Homo sapiens: one gene and its partners. The protein of the gene in region 3 interacts with the protein of the main gene of each other region in a pairwise test. Each region holds a gene or a part of one and is shown on either strand. Other genes may lie near its edges.

Region 1 (8,413 bases), on a different chromosome or scaffold from region 3:
CCTCTGCCTCCTGGGTTCAAGCAATTCTCCTGCCTCAACCTCCCAAGAAGCTGGGATTACATGCATGTGCTTCCATGCCAGGCTAATTTTTTGTAGAGATGAGGTTTCACCATGTTGGCTAGGGTGCTCTCGAACTCCCAACCTCAAGTGATCCACCCACCTCAGCCTCCCAAAGTGCTGGGATTAAAGGCGTGAGCCACCACGCAGGGACATGTTTCTTAAGGCATCATCACTCTTCCAGGCTTTAGAGTTCTGGCTACAGAAATATTTCCTCTATTACCTATTTCTAGTCATTAGCAAGATATACTGATTCCTCCTTTAAAATAACTTCTTCCAGCCAAGCACAGGAGCTCATGCCTGTAATCTCAGCACTCTGGGAGGCCAAGGCAGGAGGAATGCTGGAGGCCAGGAGTTTGAGACCAGCCTGGGCAACATAGCAAGGCCCCTGTCTCCACACATTTTTTTTTTTTTTTTAATGGCTGGGCGTGGTGGTGCTTGCCTGTAGTTCTAGTTACTTGGGATGCTGAGGCGGGAGGATTGCTTGGGCCCAGGAGTTCAAGGCTACAATGAGATGTGATCGTTACCACTGCACTCCAGCCTGAGTGACGGCGAGACTCTATCTTAAAAAAAAACAAACAAACAAAAAAACAGGACGGGGTGCTGTGGCTCACACCTGTAATCCCAGCACTTTGGGAGGCCGAGGTAGGCGGATCACGAGGTCAGGAGATCCAGACCATCCTGGCTAACATGGTGAAACCCCATCTCTACTAAAAATACAAAAAAGTAGCCGGGCATGGTGGCGGGCGCCTGTAGTCCCAGCTACTAGGGAGGCTGAGGCAGGAGAATGGCGTGAACCCGGGAGGCGGAGCTTGCAGTGAGGGGAGACTGCACCACTGCACTCCAGCCTGGGTGACAGAGTGAGACTCCGTCTCAAAAAAAACAAAAACAAAAACAAAAAAACAGGCCGGGTGCAGTGGCTTATGCCTGTAATCCCAGCACTTTGGGTGGGAGGCTGAGGCGGGCAAATCATGAGGTCAGGAGTTCGAGACCAGCCCGGCCAACATGGTGAAACCCTCTCTCTACTAAAAATACAAAAATTAGCTGGGCATGGTGGTGCACACCTGTAATCCTAGCTAATCAGGAGGCTGAGGCAGGAAAATCACTTGAACCCGGAAGACGGAGGTTGCAGTGAGCTGAGATCATGCCACTGCACTCCAGCCTGGGCCACAGAGCGAGACTCTGTCTCAAAAAACAAAAACAAAAAAAAACAAAAACAAAACTCTTCTCTCCTTGCTCCTCCTTCTTACCACCACTTGCCCAGTCTCATCTCTTTTTTTTTTTGTTTTTTTTGAGACGGAGTCTTGCTCTGTCGCCCAGGCTGGAGTACAGTGGTGTGATCTCGGCTAACTGCAACCTCCACCTTCCAGGTTCACGCCATTCTACTGCCTCAGCTTCCCGAGTAGCTGGGACTACAAGTGCCCGCCACCAGGCCTGGCTAATTTTGTTTTTGTATTTTTAGTACAGACGGGGTTTCACCGTGTTGGCCAGGATGGTCTCGATCTCCTGACCTCGTGATCCGCCCGCCTTGGCCTCCCAAAGTGCTAGAATTACAGGCATGAACCACCACGCCCAGCCCAGTCTCATCTCTTAATGACGCCTCCTTCTGCCCATCTTCACATCACTAACAACAATATTGCTCAACCACCTCACTGGGTCTTGTTTCTGTTTTAAAAAACCTTTCAAACTGTATTACCTTCAAGAATAAGTTCAAGTGTGTTAACCTGGCCTTGAAGATCCTTCACAATTACATCCTCCCTGACCATATCCTCCTCTCTTCCCTCAAACCTTCCCAAATCTTTTCAGCATAAACTTACCATCAGTTCAGATAGGTTAGTGCCACACACCTGCAAATAAGTCCTCCCCCACTGTAAATACTCTCCTTTAAGGTGGGCTGAATTCCTACCTCCCGGAAAGTTAGTTACCTTGTCATAACATGTTGAATTTTTAATATCCTGGATTCCCTCAATAGTCTTTACCACCTGTATTGTTTTCAACCCTTAACCTTAAGCTTTGTCTCTACCTAAGTCAAAAACATCTGGAGACTTAACACTATACAGTACTATGGAACAAAATACAAATGCCTCTTTAAGAAATACCAAATAAAGGCCAGACGTGGTGGCTCACGCCTGTAATCTAGAGACCTAACACCATACAGTACTATGGAACAAAATACAAATGCCTTTTTAAGAAATACCAAATAAAGGCCAGGCATGTTGGCTCACGCCTGTAATCCCAGCACTTTGGGAGGCTGAGGCAGGTGGATCACCTGAGGTCAGGAGTTTGAGACCAGCCTGGCTAACACGGTGAAACCCCGTTTCTACTAAAAATACAAAAAATTAGCAGAGCATGGTGGCACGTGCCTATAATCCCAGCTACTCGGGAGGCTGAGGCAGGAGAATCGCTTGAACCCCGGAGGCGGAGGTTGCAGTGAGCCGAGGTCGCACCACTGCACTCCAGCTTGGGCAACAAGAACGAAACTCAGTCTCAAAAACTATAAATAAATAAATCGCAGCCGTTAGGAGACTAAGATTCCACAGACTGATTACTGAAAGTAATTGCAAAAACTGCAAATACTTTTGTACCAACCTAATAGATGCCAGGCAGGAAACCAGATAAAAGCCGAGAAAAGAAGGGCCAATATTAGAAGGGGTTACCGGGCTGTGTGCACTAAGGGACCCCCTCCCTTTCCCAGAACGCACCGCCAGCACTGCACCTTCACTCAGTACCAGGTAGCCGAGCTGGTCTGGGATTCGCTCCAGCCCCTGGGTCAGCGCAGAAGTCTAGTGGGTAAAGATGCAAGTCGTGAGAAGCATGCTAGAGGGATGGACGGCCCGATACCCTTCACCTGCAAACCCAAGTCTCTGGGTTGACGATGGCCCCAGGTTTTCTCATTCCCCAGCCAGGTCCCTTCCCGGCCCCCTCCCCCCTACATGGTCCTCAATACTGATCTTCCCGAGCCTCCATCTGCCCCCACTCTCGCCCCCGGGCTCCCCTGGCCTTCCACATCCCACCTTTGCTACCCCAAGGGGCCTTTGCTGCCCCACTGGCCCCTGCCCCCAGACCCTCTCTTCACCTCCCTTCGTCTCCGCCCGACCTGCAGACTACCCGCAGCCCCAGAACACCCTCCCACAGACCCCTCCCCAGCATTCTCGTCGCCATCCCTCCCATTTCCATCCCCTCTTCCTCCCCGAGCGGATAGGAGGTGAGGGTGGAGCGCAGGCCCACCAGGGGGAAACCACACAGACTGGGGAGCAGAGACGCTGAACCCCCGGCGGGTCCTCTCGCGCATGCGTCCTCACTCACCATCGCAGTCTTCGGTGCTGGGGGAGCTCCCTACCAGATAGGTAGCTTCCGGCTTCAGGCCCCGGTCACGTGCTTGCAGCCGCTGCGCTCCTCCTTCTGCTTGCGCCACTGGCCTTTAGCCCCGCCTCTAGCATGAGGATTGGACAGTGGCCACGTCGTCAGACCCAACCAGCCAGTGCGAAGCGCTGTTTCCCGGAGGCGCACGTTGATTGGTGATATCCCCTCTTTAACACCCATCTCCCCGCCCCTCAGTGCCTGAGCGAGAGGAAGACGCGGGAGCGTCCGAGGAGGGGAGGATCTGGGAGGGGCGGGAGTAGGCCGGGGTTGACCGTTTGGTCCTGGGCGCACTGTCTGGAGCCAGAGTTCCGCCTGAGCCAGGATGCCCGCTGGTGTGACCCCCCCAAATGAATCCCTTCCCAGGTTTAAGACTGGACCCAAAAACTAGAGAATAAAAGGAAATAACGTGCAATGCATGTGAAAAACTATTCAAGGCTGGGCGCCGTGGCTCACGCCTGTAATCTCAGCGCTTTGCGAGGCCGAGGACGGATCATTTCAGGGCAAGAGTTCGAGACGAGCCTGAGCAACATAGCGAGACCCTCCCCAGTCCCCCCGCTCCAACCACCTCTACAAAAAAATAAGAAAATAAGCCGGGCATGGTGCCTCACGCCAGTAATTCCAGCTACTAGGGAGGCTGATGGAGGAGAATCTCTTGAGCTCAGCAGTTGCAGAGTGCAGTGAGCTATTATGGTGCCACTGCACTCCAGCCTGGGTGCCCTTCCTCTAAAAAAAAAAGAAAAGAAAAGGAAAAAAAAGGTACTCAAATGCTACTTTTTTTTTTTTTTGAGTCGGAGTCTCACTCGGTCGCCCAGGTTGCAGTGCAATGGCGCGATCTCTGGCTCAATACAACTTCCGCCTCCCGTGTTCAAGCAATTCTCCTGCCTCAGCCTCGCGAGTAGCTGGGATTACAGGCGCCCACCACCACGCCCGGCTATTTTTGTGTTTTTAGTAGAGATAGGGTTTCACCATATTGGCCAGGCTGGTCTCAAACTCCTGACCTCGTGATCCGCCCGCCTCGGCCTCCCAAAGTGCTGGGATTACAGGCTTGAGCCACCGCGTCCGGCCCTCAAATGCTACTTTTGTGCCTACTCAAGACAGCTCTTTGTTGAAGACAAGAATTTGTTCCCGAAGTGGTTTTTTTGTCCCCAGATTCAGTCCGGGACAATGTGGTGGTAAATAGAATCCCCAGCTAGCCAATGCAGCTGCAATACTGAATATTCATTCCCTACAGGAAAAAATTAGAAACAGTACCTTGGAATGATACACACACACACACACACACACACACACACACACATCACACAATATATGTAAACATTAGAAATTTTTGTTTTAAATAATTTCTAAACCTGTTGCCATATTAATGTGGTGGAGGCTGTGTTAGTGAAATAATATGAAGAATGATTCTAGAAGCCTGGGCAACATAGCAAGACCCCATCTCTAAAAATTTAAAAATTAACCAGGCATGATACTGCACATGTAGTCCCAGCTACCCGGGAGGCTGAGGTGGGAGAATCGCTTGAGCCCAGGAGGTTGAGGCTGCAGTGAGCCATGATCATGCTACTGCACTCAAGACTGGGTAAAAGAGCAAGATTGTCTCAAAAAGCAACAAAAAAATCTGAATATAATAACAATTGTTAAAGTCTGGGTGTCTTTTAAGACTTGTTAGAAACAGCAATTTCAAGGCTGGGCGTGGTAGCTCACACCTGTAATCCCAGCACTTTGGGAGACCAAGGCGGGTGGATCACCTGAAGTCAGGAGTTCGAGACCTGCCTGGCCAACATGGTGAAACCTCATCACTACTAAAAATACAAAACAAACAAACAAAAAAAAAAAAAACTAGGTGGGTGTGGTGGTGCATGCCTGTAATCCCAGCTACTGGGGAGGCTGAGGCAGGAGAATCCTTGAATCCAGGAGGCGAAGGTTGCAATGAGCTGAGATTGTGCCATTGCACTCCAACCTGGGCAACAAGAATGAAACTCCGTCTCAAAAGAAAAAAAAAAGATTTTGATGTAATAAATTATGGTGGCAGTATTCTTGATATTTAACCATCTTTGTGTTTCTGGAATAAAATCTGCTGGAACAAATTATACTACCCATTTGTTTTACTGCTTTATTTAGAATTTTTAAAATCTATTATGATAAATGAGATTGGGCTGTAGTTTCTTTTTGGTATATTCTTTATCTGCTTTTGGTAGAAAGAGCAGGTTGCCAGATAAAATGAATCAGAGAGTTTCCTATCTTTTTTATCTATGGTCTGCAAATCAAACTGGTTGGACCAACTCACACTCCTCTAGCAATGTGTCAGAGTTCCCAGTTATCTCCAGCTCCATTAACACATGGTATTGCCACACTTTTTGTTTTTTGTTTTTTTTTTGAGACAGTCTTGTTCTGTTGCCCAGGCTGGAGTGCAGTGGCGCAATCTCAGCTCACTGCAACCTCCACCTCCTGGTTCCCGGGTTCAAGCAATTCTTCTGCCTCAGCCTCCCGAGTAGCTGGGACTACAGGAGCGCACCACCACACCCAGCTAATTTTTGTATTTTTAGTAGAGATGGGTTTCACCATGTTGGCCAGGATAGTCTTGATCTCTTGACCTCGTGATCTGCCTGCATCAGCCTCCCAAAGTGTTGGGATTACAGGCCTGAGCCACCATGCCCAGCCAGTATTGCCACACTTTTAGGGTAAAGTTTTTGGATATGCGATGGCTTCTCATTGTAGTTTTTATTTGCATTTACCTAAATATTAATGAGGTTGATCACATTTTCAGACAGGTTTGGCTTTTGGGATATCATCTTTTGTGAAGTATCAGTTCAACTTTTTTTTTTTTTTGAGACAGAGTCTTGCTATGTTGCCCAGGCTGGAGTGCAATGGTGCGCTCTTGGCTCACTGCAACCTCCGCCTCCTGGATTCAAGCAATTCCCTTGCCTCAGCCTCCCAAGTAGCTGGGACTACAGGGGCACGTTGCCATCCCGGCTTTTTTTTTTGTATTTTTAGTAGAGACGGGGTTTCACCGTGTTGCCCAGGCTGGTCTTGAACTCCTGAGCTCAGAGCAATCCACCTGCCTCGGCCTCCCAAAGTGCTACGATTACAGGCATGAGCCACTGCAACTGGCTTATTTATTTATTTTTTTTTTGAGATAGTCTTCCTCTGTTGCCCAGGCTAGAGAGCGGTGGTGCGATCTCGGCCCACTGCAACCTCCACCTCCCAGGTTCAAGCAATCCTCCTGCCTCAGCCTCCCGAGTAGCTGGGATTACAGGCACGCACCACCAGGCACGACTAATTTTTTTGGGTTTTTAGTAGAAAGGGGGTTTCACCATGTTGACCATGTTGGCCAGGCTGGTCTCAAACTCCTGACCTTAAGTGATCTACCCACCTCGGCCTCCCAAAGTGCTGGGATTACAGGCATGAGCCACCATGCCGGCCCAGTTCAACTCTTTTCTCATTTTTCTATTGAGTTTGTCTCTCTCTTTTTTTTTTTTTTTTTTTCCCGCCCAGGCTGGCTAGAGTGCAGTGGCGTGATCTCAGCTCACTGCAAACTCCTCCTCCCGGGTTCACATCATTCTCCTGCCTCAGCCTCCCGAGTAGTTGGGACTACAGGCGTCTGCCACCACGCCCGGCTAATTTTTTAGCTCAGGAGTTTGAGACCAGCCTGGCCAACGTGGCCTGTTGTGGGAAGTCAGGGACCCCAAACGGAGGGATTGGCTGAAGCCATGGCAGAAGAACGTGGATTGTGAAGATTTCATGGACATTTATTAGTTCCCCAAATTAATACTTTTATAATTTCTTACGCCTGTCTTTACTGCAATCTCTGAATGTAAATTGTGAAGATTTCATGGACGCTTATCACTTCCCCAATCAATACCCTTGTGATTTCCTATGCCTGTCTTTAATCTCTTAATCCCGTCATTTTGGTAAGCTGAGGAGGATGTATGTCACCTCAGGACCCTGTGATGATTGTGTTAACACAAATTGTTTGTAGAGGATGTGTGTTTGAACAATATGAAATCTGGGCACCTTGAAAAAAGAACAGGATAACAGCAATGTTCAGGGAACAAGAGAGATAACCTTAAACTCTGACTGCCGGTGAGCCGGGTGGAACAGTGCCATATTTCTCTTCTTTCAAAAGCAAATGGGAGAAATATTGCTGAATTCTTTTTCTCAGCAAGGAGCATCCCTGAGAAAGAGAGTGTGTCCCTGAGGGTAGGCCTCTGAAATGGCCGCTTTGTGGGGCGGCCGTCTTTCATGGTCGAAGCTGTAGGGATGAAATAAGCCCCAGTCTCCCGTAGCGCTCCCAGGCTTATTAGGACGAAGAAATTCCCGCCTAATAAATTTTGGTCAGACCAGTTGTCTGCTCAAACCTGTCTCCTGATAAGATGTTATCAATGACAATGCGTGCCCGAAACTTCATTAGCAATTTTAATTTGTCCCGTCTTGTGGTCCTGTGATCTCGCCCTGCCTCCATTTACCTTGTGATATCTTATTACCTTGTGAAGCATGTGATCTCTGTGACCCACACCCTATTCGTACACTCCCTCCCCTTTTGAAAAAATCACTAATAAAAACTTGCTGGTTTTTATTAGTCATCACGGAACCTGCCGACATGTGATGTCTTCCCTGGACACCCAGCTTTAAAATTTCTCTTTTTTGTACTCTGTCCCTTTATTTCTCAGACCGGCCGACTCTTAGGGAATATAGAAAAGAAGCTATGTGAAATATTGGGGGTGAATTTCCCCCGATAGCGGCCAAATCCTGTCTCTACTAAAAATTCAAAAATTGGCTGCACATATTGGCAGGCACCTGTAATCCCAGCTACTCGGGAGGCTCAGGCCTTGAACCTGGGAGACAGAGGTTGCAGTGAGCCAAGATCGCACTACTGCACTCCAGCCCGGATGATAGAGCGAGACTCAGTCTCAAAAAAAAAAAAAAGGAAAAAGTAATAATAAAACCACAGAATGAAGTTAAAGATAACTTTAGGCTGGGCGCAGTGGTTTAC
Region 2 (7,455 bases), on a different chromosome or scaffold from region 3:
GAGAGTTCAAGACCAGCCTGGCCAACATGGAGAAACCTTGTCTTTACTGAAAATACAAAAATTAGCCGGGTGTGGTGGCACATGCCCGAGGCTGAGGCAGGAGAATAGCTTGAACATGGGAGGCGGAGGTTGCAATGAGCCGAGATCGCACCACTGCACTCCAGCCTGGGCGACAGAGCCAGACCCCGTCTCAAAAAGAAAAAAAAAAAAAAAAATTAGAAATTCGGACTCTGTTTCTGCACCTGTCCTTGCAGAACCACAGCACTCTCTATGGAATTCCTAGCTACACAAGCTCCTCTGCGGACTCCCAGGCCCCACCCCACCCTTCCCTGGCACCCACAAATCTCAGATCTCAATGATCCTGAGGGGTAGGCGGGTGAAGGGGAGAGGGGGGAACTACAACCCCAGTGAATCTCGGCGGCCGCTGGCTTTCAGGTTAGCCTAACTGCAAGCCCGGGGTTTGAAGGGAAATTTATTTTAAACCTGACTCGAGGCTGGGCACGATATCTCACACCTGTAATCCCAGCACTTTGGGAGGCCAAGGGGGGCAGATCGCCTGAGGCCAGGAGTTTCAGACCACTCTGGCCAACAGTGAAACCCCGTCTCTACTAAAAATATAAAAATTAGCTGGGTGTGGTGGCAGGCGCCTGTAATCCCAGCTACTTGGGAGGCTGGAAGAACAAGAATGGCTTGAACTAGGGAGGCGGAAGCTGCAGTGAGCCAAGATCGTGCCACTGTACTCCAGCCTGGGTGACAGACCAAGACTATGTCTAAAATAAATAAGATAAATAAATGTAAAATAAAATAAAAATACATTTTTTTTGAGGCGGAGTTTTGCTCTTGTTGCCCAGGCTGGAATGCAATGGCACAATCTTGGCTCACCGTAATCTCCTGCCTCAGCCTCCTGAGTAGCTGGGATTACAGGCGCCCACCACCACACCAGGCTAATTTCTGTATCTTTTCTTTTCTTTTTTTTGAGACAGAGTTTCACTCTTGTTGCCCAGGCTGGAGTGCAATGGTGTGATCTCGGCCCATTGCAACCTCTGCCTCCAGGGTTCAAGTGATTTTCCTGCCTCAGCCTCCTGAGTAGCTGGGATTACAGGTGCCCGCCACCACGCCTGGCTAATTTCTGTATCTTTTCTCTTCTTTTTTTTTTTTTTTTTTTTTTTTTAAATCACTGCTTACTGCAGCCTGGACCTCCTGGGCTCAAGCGGCCCTCCCACCTCAGCCTCCCAAGTAGCCGAGATTGCAGGTGCTTGCCACCACGCCCGGCTAATTTTTGTATTGTTAGTAGAGATAGGGATCTTGCCATGTTTCCTGGGCTGGTCTAGAACTCCTGGCTCAAGCCGTACTCCCACCTCAGCCTGCTAAAGTGTTGGGATTACAGGCATGAGACACCACCCCCAGCCCTGAATTCCTTCTTAATCTGGATCTTACCCTGCAGCGGTTTCCACAGCACCCAGCACCACAGCAGCCCTTGCCCCCTGCCCGAACGGCTGCAATCCCCGGACACAGTACCTGTGGGACAAGAGTCATTGTTATAGCACGTCCCCCCAGATCCTCCAGGCCTGACTTGCATCAGTGCCTACCTCCTTCAGGAAGCTGCCTGTGATGCCTTCAGCCCTTTGGACTGTAGAAGACCTTATCTCTACGTCTCCTGGAGCTGCTGGGCTTCACCTTACTTTATCCTTATTTACGTGCCTACCTTATCTCTGTCCAGATTGTGGCCTCTAGAGGGTAGGGCCCAATATCATTATTTTCCCCAATCTTGGCACATAGTAGGTGCCCTACTGAATGGAAATCAGGGAAACTACTTCACATGCTATGAATTGATTCATCTCTCAGGGTCTCAGTTTTGCCTGTATAAAATGGGTCTGGAAGATCTACCTCACAGGTCTGTTCTCAGGATTTAATGGGAGAACAAGCTGACTAGGTGTTAAGACTGGCTCAGAGGCCGGGCGCGGTGGTTCACGCCTGAAATCCCAGCATGTTGAGAGGCTGAGGCTGGTGGATCACCTGAGGTCGGAAGTTCAAGACCAGCCTGACCAACATGGAGAAACCCCAACTCTGCTAAAAATACAAAATTAGCCGGGCGTGGTGGCGCATGCCTATAATCTCAGCTACTCGGGGGGCTGAGGCAGGAGAATTACTTGAACCTGGGAGGTGGAGGTTGTGGTGAGCTGAGATCGTGCCACTGTACTCCAACCCGGGCAATAAGAGCGAAACTCCATCTCAAAAAAAAAAAAAAAAAAAGACCAGCTCAGAGTAACTCAATATTTATAAGTTCCCTCAGCAGCAGGAAGGGATAGAGGTGTTGGAGTGTCTGGTGAATTGGGATTACAGTAGAGTGTGGAAGAGTGCTAGTGGATGGTCTGATATGGAGTGTAGCATTTTCCAAGATTCAAGCCTTGGTCTTTTTTTCTCCCTGTGGCTTTCCTAACAATGCCCATCCCCTTTCAGGGAATCAGCTCTTCACTCTGCCAGAAGTTGCCTCCAAAACTGATGCCTCCAGATCCTATGTTCACTTGAATATCTTGGTTTTAGCTCAAATTCAACCAGCCTCACGCTCATCTCACAATATTCCTCAAATTCATCTCCCTTTGACTTTCTTGTCTCCATCAGTGGAAAAAATAACATCTACTAGGTCAGCCAGGCTGGAAAGCTTTAATCTTGCACCCAGAAAGACATCAAATTTTCTCAACTTTTACTTAAGTGGCTCCTGAATCTGTGAGTTCCTCCCCACATTGAATCCCTCATCACCTCCCATGAGGGTGTTCTCAGCCTCCCTATTACACTCTCATAGCTCTTGCCCCATGCCACCCTACACTCTATCCTCTATCAGGTTAAACATAGCTTTTTTTTTTCTTTCTTTCTTTTTGAAACAGGGTCTCACTCTGCCACCCAGGCTGGAATGCAGTGGCTTGATCGTGGCTGACTTTAGCCTTGACCTCCTGGGCTCAAGTGATCCTCCTGCCTCAGCCTCCTGAGTAGCTGGTATCGCAGGCATGCGTCATCATTCCCAGCTAATTAAAAAAAATTTTGTAGACATGGGGTCTTGCTATTTGCTCAGGCTGGTCTTGAACTCCTGGGCTCCTCCTGCCCTGGCCTACCAAATTGCTGGGATTACAGGTGTAAGTCACTGCATCTGGCCTAAACATAGCTTTCAACTGGTCTTTTCTCTGCTCAAATCCTTTAGGGTCTCTTCACAGAGAAGCCCATCAAGACTGAACTCTTTTTTTTTTTTTTTTTTTGAGACGGAGTCTCACTCTGTCACCAGGTTGGAGTACAGTGGTGTGATCTTGGCTCACTGCAACCTCCACCTCCCAGGTTCAAGTGATTCTCCTGCCTCAGCCTCCTGAGTAGCTGGGACTACATGCACATGCCACCACGCCGGGCTAATTTTTTGTATTTTTAGTAGAGACGGGGTTTCATCATGTTGGCCAGAATGGTCTTGATCTCCTGACCTCGTGATCCGCCTGCCTCAGCCTCCCAAAGTGCTGGGATTACAAGCGTGAGCCACCGCGCCTGGCCAAGACTTGTAACTTGAACGCCTAACTCTTGTAAGGCATTTAAGCCTCCTCATCTGGCTCCGTTACCTTTATCTTCGTTGCACCAGGTCAGGTTCTTTGCCTGTCTCCTATCTCTGGAATTCCACAGCTGTCTTGCTTCTTGCTTTCGTGTGTGTGTGTGTTTGCTTTTTGAGACAGGATCTCACTCTGTCATCCAGGCTGGAATGCAGTGGTGCAATCATGGCTCACTGCATCCTCAACCTCCTGGGCTCAAATGATCTTCTCACCTCGGCCTCCCGAGTAGCTGGGACTAAAGGTGCGGAACAACATGCCTGGCTAATTTTTTTGGAGAGTTCATGTCTTACCATGTTGCCTAGCTGATCTCGAACTCCTGGGCTCAAGCAATCCTCCTGCTTCAGCCTCCCAAATTGCTGGGATTACAGGCATGAGCCACTGTGCCTGGCTCCTCATGTGTCTTATCTGGCACATACCATCCAAGGCAGCATTTTGTGCTTCTCCAGGGAAAGGGCTGAGAGTTTCAGTTCTATTATATCATCCCCAGCAACCTCAGAGAAACACCTGCTCTCTCTTCTTCCTGTCTCATGGCAGGGCCAGGACCCATGCTGACACCTTACTTTACCTCCCTGGTTAGGTCACTTACTGGAGGCTTGTGGATCCAAACACACCTAGAATTGCCTTTTGGATTTACCAATTTTGAATGATCTACTTGTCTGAGGTTTCTGCTTTTGTTTGAGAGAGGGTCTCACACTGTTGCCCAGACTGGAGTGCAGTGGCATGATCATGGCTCACTGCAGCCTCGACCTCCTGGGCTCAAGTGATCCTCTCACCTTAGCATTAGAGTAGCTGGGATTACAGGCTTGTACCACCACACTCAGCTAATTTTTTCTTTTTTGAGACGAAGTTTTGCTCTTGTTGCCCAGGCTGGAGTGCAATGGCGCGATCTTGGCTCGCTGTAACCTCTGCCTCCCGTGTTCAGGTGATTCTCCTGCCTCAGCCTCCCGAGTAGCTGGGATTACATGCATGCGCCACCACGCCCTGCTAACTTTGTATTTTTAGTAGAGACAAAGTTTCTCCATGTTGGTCAGGCTGGTCTCAAACTCCTGACCTCAGCTGATCAGCCTGCTTCGGCCTCCCAAAGTGCTGGGATTACAGGTGTGAGCCACCGCACCTGGCCAGACCCAGCTAATTTTAAAATTTTTGTTGAGATAGAGTCTCACTATGTTGCCCAGGCTGGTCTTGAATGCTGGGACTCAAGCGATTCTCCTGCCTCCACCTCCCAAAGTGTTGGGATTTTACAGGCATGAGCCACCACACCTGGCCCTATTTGAGATTTTTACTCTTTTGATTAAAGTGTTTGCTTCCCTTTGTAGTATGTGCTTCTCTGTCTCATTCTTCACCATCTTTTTGTCTTAGTGAAAAGTGTCATCATAAATGAAGAAGAAAACACTGTGCTTATAGCCTGAATCAGCTCATATTTCTCCATTTCCATAGCCACTGGCCTAGTCCAAGCCACTCTCATCTCTCCTGGATGTCTTCCGTGACCTCAGTTTGGTCTTTTCTTTTTCTTTTTTTTTTTTTTTGAGATGGAGTCTTGCTCTGTCACCCAGGCTGGATTGCAGTGGCATGATCTCGGCTCACTGTAACCTCTGTCTGCTGGGTTCAGGAGATTCTCCTGCCTCAGCCTTCCGAGTAGCTGGGATTACAGGCATGCACCACCATGCCCTGCTAACTTTGTATTTTTAGTAGAGACGGGGTTTCGCCATGTTGGTCAGGCTGGTCTCGAACTCCTGACCTCATGATCCGCTGGCCTCGGCCTCCAAAAGTGCTGGGATTACAGGCTTGAGGCCCCACGCCCAGCTCAGTTTGGTCTTTTTCTGTATATATTGCAGACCTTCTACTACCCATTCTCCACACAGTGGTCAAAGGAGTCTTCTTCATTCCAGTGGCGTGTGGAGCAACCAGACCTCTCACACTAAGAACTACAGAAAACTGGCAATATCTATTAGCGCTGAATACTTGCATGTCTTAAGAATCAGCAGTTTTACTGCTAGGTTTTTATCCAATAGAAATGCACACGTATTTGTACCTAAATACATCTACAAGAATATTTATAGCAGCATTATTTGCAAAAAAACCAAACTGGGAATGATCCAGATCTCCTTCAACAGTAGAATGGGCCGGGCACAGTGGCTTATGCCTGTAATCCCAGTACTCTGGGAGGCCGAGGCAGGCGGATCACCTAAGGTTGGGAGTTCAAAACCAGCCTGACCAATATCGCGAAACCCCGTCTCTACTAAAAATACAAAAATTAACTGGGCACGGTGGCACATGCCTGTAATCCCAGCTACTCAGGAGGCTGAGGCAGGAGAATCATGTGAACCTGGGAGTCAGAGGTTGCAGTGAGCCGAGATGGCGCCATTGTACTCCAGCCTGGGTGACAGAGCGAGACTCTGTTTCAAAAAAAACAAAAAAGCAAAAAAGCAAAAAAACAAACAAACAAACAGTAGAATGTATAAATGAGGTATAGTCACATAATAGAATGTATAAGAAAAAAAGAAAACTACAGCTACACCTGATAATATGGGTGGCTCTCACAAACGTAATATGGAGCTAAAGAAGCCAGACACAGGCCAGGCGCGGTGGCTCACGCTCGTAATCCCAGCACTTGGGGAGGCCGAGGTGGGTGGATCACCTGAGGTCGGGAGTGCGAGACCAGCCTGACCAACATGGCGAAACCCCCATCTCTACTAAAGTAAATACAAAAATTAGCCAGGCGTGGTGGCTCATGCCTGTAACCCCAGCTACTCTGGAGGCTGAGGCATGAGAATCATTTGAACCTGGGAGGCGGAGGTTGCAGTGAGCTGAGATAGCGCCACTGCACTCCAGCCTGGGCAACAGCTCCGTCTCAAAAAAAAGCCAGACACATACTCTATCATTCCATTTGTGTAAAGTGCAAAATAAGCCAAACTCGTCTATGGGGTTAGAAGACAGAATAGTGGTTACGCTTGTTGGTGAAGTGATTCTGGGGTTCCGTGTGTGGTGAGAAGCATGTCTGGGCTTCTGGTAATGATCTGTTTCTTGACCTGGGCTCAGATGTGCTCACTTTGTAAAAGTTTGTTGAGCTGTGTACTAAGGATCTGGGTACTTGTCTGTGTGACTTAAATAAAAAGTTTTAAACCGTCAAAAAACAAAGTGCCAAAAGTCCTTCAATAGGGCATGGCGCGGTGGCTCACTCCTGTAATCCCAGCACTTTAGGAGGCCGAGGCGGGTGGATCACAAGGTCAGGAGATCGAGACCATCCTGGCTAACACGGTGAAACCCCATCTCTACTAAAAATACAAAAAAAAAAAATTTGCTGTGCGTGGTGGCGGGCGCCTGTAGTCCCAGCTACTCGGGAGGCTGAGGCAGGAGAATGGCGTGAACCCAAGAGGTGGAGCTTGTAGTGAACCGAGATCGCACCACTGCACTGCAGCCCGGGCGACACAGTGAGATTCCGTCTCAAAAAAAAAAAAAAGTCCTTCAATAGTTTTCTGTTGTACTTATAATAATAAAAATTCAAATGACTCCACTGTGGCTTTTCAGGGTGTTCCAGGCCTAGCCTCTGCCCTCCTCAGACCTCATCTCATTACATCTCACCTCACCGGCCACCTGTCTGATCCTCAGAAGTGTAGAGCTTGTTCCCACCTTAGGCTTTGTACTACCAGCCCCTAGTGTCTGCAACACTCACACCTTCTTCTTGTCATTTGGGTCTCAGTTCAGACATCACCTCATAGAGCCTGTCCCTGAAAATCCTATAAAAAGTGGCATCTGCTTTGCCTAGGAGCTCTTCATGCCAGCACCATTTCATTTTATTTTTATTTTTTACTTTTGAGACAGAGTTTCACTCTTGTTGCCCAGGCTGGAGTACAATGGTGCAATCTTGGTT
Region 3 (7,455 bases):
ACTGATTAATTATGAATATTTCTATGTTTTCTTGACTTTAATGAAAACTGCTTTAGCATTTCATAATTTTAGAATGGTGCCGGTACTTGTCTGGGAATAAATAGACTTTGCTATTTTTAAGTAGTGCTTTTCACTTAGAGTTTTAATCAGAAACAGGTGCTGAATTCTATTAAGTGCCTTTTTGATATCTATTGATGTAATTATGAATTTTTCTTTAATTTGTTAATGTAGTGAATTATGTTGGATTTCTTAATAATGAAACATCCTTGCATTACTGGAATAAACCTTATCTTAGGCACAGGATATGTTTTGATATACTGTTGGATTCTATATGATAATGTTTTACAAATAAATTTTACGTTTCTATATTATTTTCTTTCTTTTTGGTAGTGTCAGGCTTTGTGTTAGGGGTGTGTGGACTTTGTAAAATGAATTGGTGGAAGTTCTTCTTTTTATTATTTTTATTTTATTTTATTTTATTTTAAGACAGTGTTTCACTCCATCACCCAGGCTGAAGTGCAGTGGCACAATCTTGGCTCACTGCAAGCTCCACTTCCTGGGTTCAAGCAATTCTCGTGCCTCAGCCTCTCTTCTTTTTAAATGGTGTGGAGTAGTTTAATAACATGGAAGTTAACAGTTATAGAGCCAATAATCCCAGCATTTTGGGAGGCAGAGGTGAGCAGATCACTTGAGCCCAGTAGTTCGAGACCAACTTGAGCAACATGGTGAAACCCTGTCTCTATGAAAAATACAAAAAATTAACTGGGCATGGTGGTATGCACCTGTAGTCCCAGCTACCTGGGAGGCTGAGGTGGGAGAATCACCTGTGCCCGGGAAGTCCAGGCAGCAGTGAGCTGTGATAGCGCTGCTGCATTCCAGCCTGGGTGACAGTGAGATCCTGTCTCCAAAAAAAAGGAAAATAAAAGAAAAAACAGTTATAGAGAGAACTCTGTGGGGGCTCTGTTCCAATTTTAAATGAGATGCTGAATTAGATAAGACATGAACTTACTGTATACATTTAAAGAAGTCTTCCAAGTTCAGCCACAATTTGCCTTAGAAACCAGAGGCTAAAATTATCTCCTCTTACCATTTAGAAACCAGAATGAATCTTCTCTCAAGACTTTTTTATTTTTTATTTATTTTTTATTTTTTAAGATGAAGTATTGCTACAGTGCCAAGGCTGGCCCCAAACTCCTGGGCTAAAGTGATCTTCCCACCTATGCCTCCTGAGTTGCTAGGGCTACAGACACACACCACCAGGTCTGGCTTCTCAAGACTTTTAAACAAATACTTGCCCAGTGACTAATAGGAGATCTGGTTAACATAAAGAAGGAAGCTGCTTAGTAGGCACAGAAAAAAACTGGAGGCAAAGTCTGGCCTGTTGATTCATACTTGCTAAGATTTAATGAAATAATGCATGTTTGTTTAGGTCCTAGACTACTTTAAAACAACCTAAAAAAGATATTTCCCTGATCCAGAATTTGTAGATACGAGTAGAGGTAAGGTGTTCACACAACTTCAAATATTCATTACTAGGGAGTTGCTTACATTTTCATATTTTTCTAGTTATAATTTCTACTTTTAGCAGATTCTAACATTTAGATCTTTTGGTATGAATAGGTCAAAACAAGTCACCATTAACTGACAGGAAGCACAGAATTCTCAATTTAGTTTTGGCAAAGACATTATTTTATAAATATGAGTTTTTAAATGATTCTTATGAAGAAACTAGCACCAAAGTGAATGCACTCTGCAAATAACTCCCAGCTTCTCTGAATTTCAAAAGCAGCCACTAAATATTATTAGCAAATCAATTTAGCTGAAAGCGATGAATTACAGAAGTAAATCTTTAGGTACAAAGTAGACAGCTGACACACATGTAGCATATACACACTAGTGATCTGCCTCAAAGGGAAATGCTTATTAATACCCATAATCTATTGTCACTGTGTCAAATTCTTACACATCATAGTCCGTGATTTCACTACTCTGTAGCAGCAATAAAGTGTTAAAAGGCCCATCAGTATGATGACACACATTCCAGTAGTAAATCCAGCCTGTTTAAAAATAAAAGTATAAAACAGCATATATCATCATGTAAGCATAAATTCATATGCAATTATTTTACCCTAAACAATCATGATAAAAACTTGACAACTCATGAAAAACTAAATATAACCATCTATTTTCTTTAATGAATTTTATGTAGATTTATTAAAACCTCTGTTATAAAACTTACAATATAAAGAGAAAAACATTTAGGCAAAAAGTGTGCTGAAAAATTAGTATTACCTGTTTTATGCCCCAAGGAATGCTTAGTATAGATGTTCCCATCATGGTATTCCAAATCATAAAACTGAAAACACAGAGTAATAGCAGTAAAAAAATGGAGTTTCACTCTTCAAACATTTTAATTGAGACAAAAATTTAAAAAACCAGTAATTTTCATCCATATACAGTTTAAGTCATGCTCCAAAAAGCAGTTTCACTCACATGGTTACTAAACTGGTGTTTTTACCGTATCCTTCAGTGTAACTTTGAAGTTTATAAGCAGAGCCCAATGGACTATACACATAGCACTCTTCTGGAGCTGGAACTACATGGTCTGGGGCAATCTGGTAAAAAGGAAACATAGATAAATTTCAGAACCAGGAAATGCAAAATAGGATATTTGTTACACATCAGAACACCTGACTCTAGACACCTTTTTTTTTCTTTTGAACGGAGTCTCGCCCTGTCGCCCAGGCTGGAGTGCAGTGACGCGATCTCGGCTCACTGCAAGCGCCGCCTCCTGGGTTCACGCCATTCTCCTGCCTCAGCCTCCCGAGTAGCTGGGACTACAGGTGCCCACCACCACGCCTGGCTAATTTTTTGTATTTTTTTGTAGAGACGGGGTTTCACCATGTTAGCCAGGATGGTCTCGATCTCCTGACCATGTCATGATCCACCCGCCTCGGCCTCCCAAAGTGCTGGGATTACAGGCGTAAGCCACCACGCCTGGCCCTCTAGACACATTTTAACTATCATAAACAAGTACTATGAATCTCTGATTAGTGAATTAAAAAATGACTTTTCAAATATAGAAAAACTAACTAAAAAAGCAAGTTTTAAAAACCCAAAATAATTTTGGAATTTTCAGAAAACGAGTGTGGATGCAAGTACTATGCATCCCTGATTAGTGAATTTAAAAATTATTTTTCAAATATAGAAAATCTAACTAAAAAAGCAAGAGTTTAAAAATCCAAAATAGTTTTGGGATTTTCAGAAAACGAGTGTGGATGTATACACACATTCATTAAGAATGGTTATATCATTGTCAATTTTACATCACTGTTTATATATTTTGACTTCCTAGACTCATCTCAGTGTCAGTTAACAAATGGCATTCAACTTTGGTGCACATGCTGACTCTATTTCCAGGCAAACAATATACATGCAGGTATAAACTTGCTCATCTGGGATCTTGGAGGTTTGTTTCCAAGAGCAGAGCCTCTAGAAGGTCTCAACTAGACCCAGAGATACAGGATTATCTCTACTCCTCCAAGGGCTTAAGTAATTCCATTATGGAACTAAGACTTCGCCACAACTACTGATGTCAAGGCCTAAGGGGAAAAAGCCGAAAAAAAAATTGGGAAAAAAATTATCCTACCCAGAACATTTTGGAAATCCCTATTTTGGCCATACAAGAGGAAATCTTAATATTTATTTCACATAGCTATTGTTTAGGCTTAAATGAGATAGCTACATTCCAGTGATGCCCAATCACTGGTCCTTATTAAATGTTAATGAATGTTGGTTCTCTTCTTTTTATTAATAATACTAATTTCAAAATCCTGTTTTCTCCCAGAATGTTCTTATTTTCAGTTAAACTTGCAAGTTTCTGACTATCTCATATGCGGTAGTTTTTATAAACTACCAAATTACTTATATATATTTTTTATCCTAAAATAGTAATAGAGATTTTTAGAAGATCAAGGGTCAACAAACTCCGGCCCATAGGCCAAATCTGGTTTCAACCTGATTATTATACAGCCTCTTTCCTGAGAATGGTTTTTATAATTTTATAAATTTTATAATTTATAATTTTGATGATCATAAACAAAATGAAGAATATCATGTGACCTCAAAGTCTAAGACATTTAGTATCTGGCTCTTTGACTCCTGGTTTTGATCAATAAAAGAATAATGCTAAATAAGAAACTACTATATTTATGTGTACATATTTCAGTTTCCCATTCTTCTTTTTTTTTTTTTTTAAGAGATGGGGTCACATGGCCGGGCACAGTGGCTCACGCCTGTAATCCCAGCACTTTGGGAGCACAGTGGCTCACGCCTGTAATCCCAGCACCTCAGGGTGGGTGGGTCACGAGGTCAGGAGTTCAAGACCAGCCTGGCCAACATGGTGAAACCGTGTCTCTACTCAAAATACAAAAATGAGCCAGGTGTGGTGGCGCACACCTGTAACCCCAGCTACTCAGGAGGCTGAGGCAGGAGAATGGCTGGAACCCAGGAGGCAGAGGTTGTGGTGAGCCGAGATTGCGCCACTGCACTCCAGCCTGGGTGATAGAGCGACACTCCATCTCAAAAAAAAAGAGATGGGTCACACTCTTTTGCTCAGTCTGGGTGGGATGCAGTGGCACAATCACAGCTCACTGCATCCTCAAGGGATCCATCCTGGGCTCAAGGGATCCTCCTGTCTCAGCCTCTCAAGTAGCTGGAACTATAGGTGCGAGCCATCATGCTTGGCTAATTAAAAAAATTTTTTTTTGTAGAGACAGGGTTTCACCATCTTCTCCAGGCTGGTCTTGAACCCCTGGGCTCAAGTGATCCTCTTGCCTTGGCCTCCCAAAATGCTGAGATTACAGGAGTGAGTCACTGTGCTTGGCCAGTTTCCCATTCTTGTAGAAAATTTCTAAAAAAATATTTCCCTTACAGCTTCAAAGTTAAAATTGTCCACACTAAGCAGAACATGTTATTATTTGCTATTAGTCAATGGCCTAACTTGCCATTTCAAAAGTAATTTATCCTCCTCAGAGATTTGGGGAATGGGGATCAGGAGAATTTAATCCAAAAAAATCTCCAGGTTGTTGTCAACATAGAAACATTGTTTCAAATTTAGATAAGAATGAACTGGCCTGAGATGTAGGATGTGTGTTAATTACTATCTTTGACTTTGCATGATGCTGTCCTTGAAATACAGTCAGAAAGAAGTTCAATCACTGGGAGGTGCCCTGGCTTATATTGTTCACTGTTCATTTCAACTGAATTTTAGACTATTAGTAATGTTTTGTCTCTTACCAGTGCCTTGTCTGCAGGAGTGGTGAGCCGGCTGTAGTAATGAATTCTCTTGTTCATGGCAGAGGCATGGTCACTAACCCTCTGAATGACATGATTCACATTCACGATGTTTGTGGGCTCTATACAGAAAGGCCTACAAAGGGAATATACACTTGACAAAAAGTGTTCAGCCAAAAATTCTGGAAGTCAGCCTTTGAAGAAAATAACTTCTTATCCTCCATTAGTAATGGGATGCACAAAGGCAAGGCATTGACTTCTCACTTTTGGTGCAAACAGAAAATGTTACAAAAGAAGTATTATCCTATCCACAGAATAAAGCTTTTGTCTCATAACACTTTTACTTTAAGCACACTTTTTTTGTAATCTTCAGGAATTTAGCAACCGAGAAGACAAAACAGAAAGAACTTAAAACAGTTATTAAAAAGAAATACAGCAGCTATCAATTTCCAACAATGAAACTTAAGACAGCTTTGAATAGTCTCTCAAAAAAGCTTTTGGCACTAAATCAGAGAAATTATGGACTAAAATGTCCCTCTCCTGAAGAGTCTCTACTCCTTCCTTATGGGCCCAAGTTATTTCCTATGATAAACAGAATTCTTATTCCTTGGTTCATGTATTAAGGATTAGTGACCTCAACTATCAGATCCCTTATGAGACTTATCCAACTCAGTATAAAATGGAACATCATGACAATGGAGATATTTTGCCTCATTCTACTTTTTGCGGATTTTAGTAACATACCCTTTTATTTATATACATGCTTCCTTTCCACGTCTGCATCCTAATCAACTGCAGATTTTGGTGTTCAATCATCCTTTTCAGTCATCAACCTCTTCAGTTCCTTTCTGAAACTCCCTCATTTTCTTCTGAAGTTTCCAGTAATATACTATCCAAAATGAAAAGACCAGGCAGAGTTTTATCAAAAGACTGTATCCCTCTGCTGATTCTTAGGCTCCTTGAAATCATAAGTGACACTGTGCCCCAAATTGCACATAATTTGCCATTTCAGGCACAGATCCAAAGAAAGAAGAAAAAAAATCCAGATTTATCATTGGTTCCACTAACTCCTCTATACTTATGGTTCTGAAAGGAACTTAAAATGTAGTAACATATGGTAACCATTTCTGGAGATACTGTTAATCTAATCTTTTTTTTTTTTTTTTTTTTGAGACAGAGTCTCACTCTATCGCCTAGGCTGGAGTGCAGTGGTGCGATCTCGGCTCACTGCAACCTCCACCTCCTGAGTTCAAGCAATTTTCTGGCCTCAGCCTCCAGAGTAGCTGGGACTACAGGTGTGCACCACCATGCCTGACTAATTTTTGTATTTTTAGTAGAGACAGGATTTCACCATGTTGGCCAGGCTGGTCTCCAACTCCTGACCTCAGGTGATCCACCTGCCTTGGCCTCCCAAAGAGTTGGGATTACAGGCATAAGCTACCTCACCCAGCCGTTAATCTAATCTTGTGGGAAGTACTTGAAAAGCCAAGTGACTGAACATTTAATTTCTGCTATTTTTCTTATTAATTCTGTGATATTTGAGAAATGGTAGCAGAGGTGTTAAACTTAGTTTTATCTCTCTAGTTAGCATACAGAATCTTTGAATCTTTTACTATTTGTTCTCTACCGCAAAACCTAAATATGCTGGGTACTATATAGGTCAACTCAATGAATATGTAAATAGAGCACTTATAGAGCAAATATGTGGATATAGGGATCAATATGACATATTATATATACTAGTGCTGTGGTTTGAATATGTCCCCCAAAGTTTATGTGTTGGAAGAAAATCTCCAATTCAACAGTCCCAACAGTGGGACCTTTAAGAGGTGATTAGGTCATGAGGGCTCTGAGTTCACAAACAGATTAATGACGTTATCTTGGGAGCAGGTTAATATCATAGGAGTGGGATCCTGGTAAAAGAATGAGTTCAGTTCCCTTCCTTTCCCCTACCCTCTCTCACGTACTCTTTGGCCCTTCCACAATGTTGTGATAAGCAAGAAGTCCCTCCCTACATGTGGGCCCTTTGACCTTGGACTTCCCAGTCTCCACAACTATAAGAAATAAATCTCTGTTCTTTTAAAATTACCCAGTCTCAGGTATTCTGTTACAGCAGAATAAAAGGAACTAAGACAATAAGCATATTATTGTTAAGTGAAT

Evidence for each region. The genes of interacting proteins can lie anywhere in the genome.
Region 1: the proteins of SLC38A9 (region 3) and LAMTOR4 interact in binary tests that used the Homo sapiens proteins (3 or more experiments, as listed by UniProt).
Region 2: the proteins of SLC38A9 (region 3) and TM4SF5 interact in binary tests that used the Homo sapiens proteins (3 or more experiments, as listed by UniProt).

The regions. Positions count from the first base shown.
Region 1 is NC_000007.14:100,143,926-100,152,338, reverse strand, and holds the start of LAMTOR4 (ragulator complex protein LAMTOR4), read right to left. Parts: upstream 3,422-8,413; 5' UTR 3,367-3,421; coding exon 3,364-3,366; coding exon of another isoform or gene 3,286-3,363; intron 2,841-3,285; coding exon 2,760-2,840; intron 1-2,759. UniProt on the Homo sapiens protein: As part of the Ragulator complex it is involved in amino acid sensing and activation of mTORC1, a signaling complex promoting cell growth in response to growth factors, energy levels, and amino acids.
Region 2 is NC_000017.11:4,774,852-4,782,306, reverse strand, and holds part of TM4SF5 (transmembrane 4 L6 family member 5), read right to left. Parts: intron 1,519-7,455; coding exon 1,438-1,518; intron 1-1,437. UniProt on the Homo sapiens protein: Acts as a lysosomal membrane arginine sensor.
Region 3 is NC_000005.10:55,667,265-55,674,719, forward strand, and holds part of SLC38A9 (neutral amino acid transporter 9), read right to left. Parts: intron 5,432-7,455; coding exon 5,299-5,431; intron 2,616-5,298; coding exon 2,494-2,615; intron 2,357-2,493; coding exon 2,293-2,356; intron 2,058-2,292; coding exon 1,964-2,057; intron 1-1,963.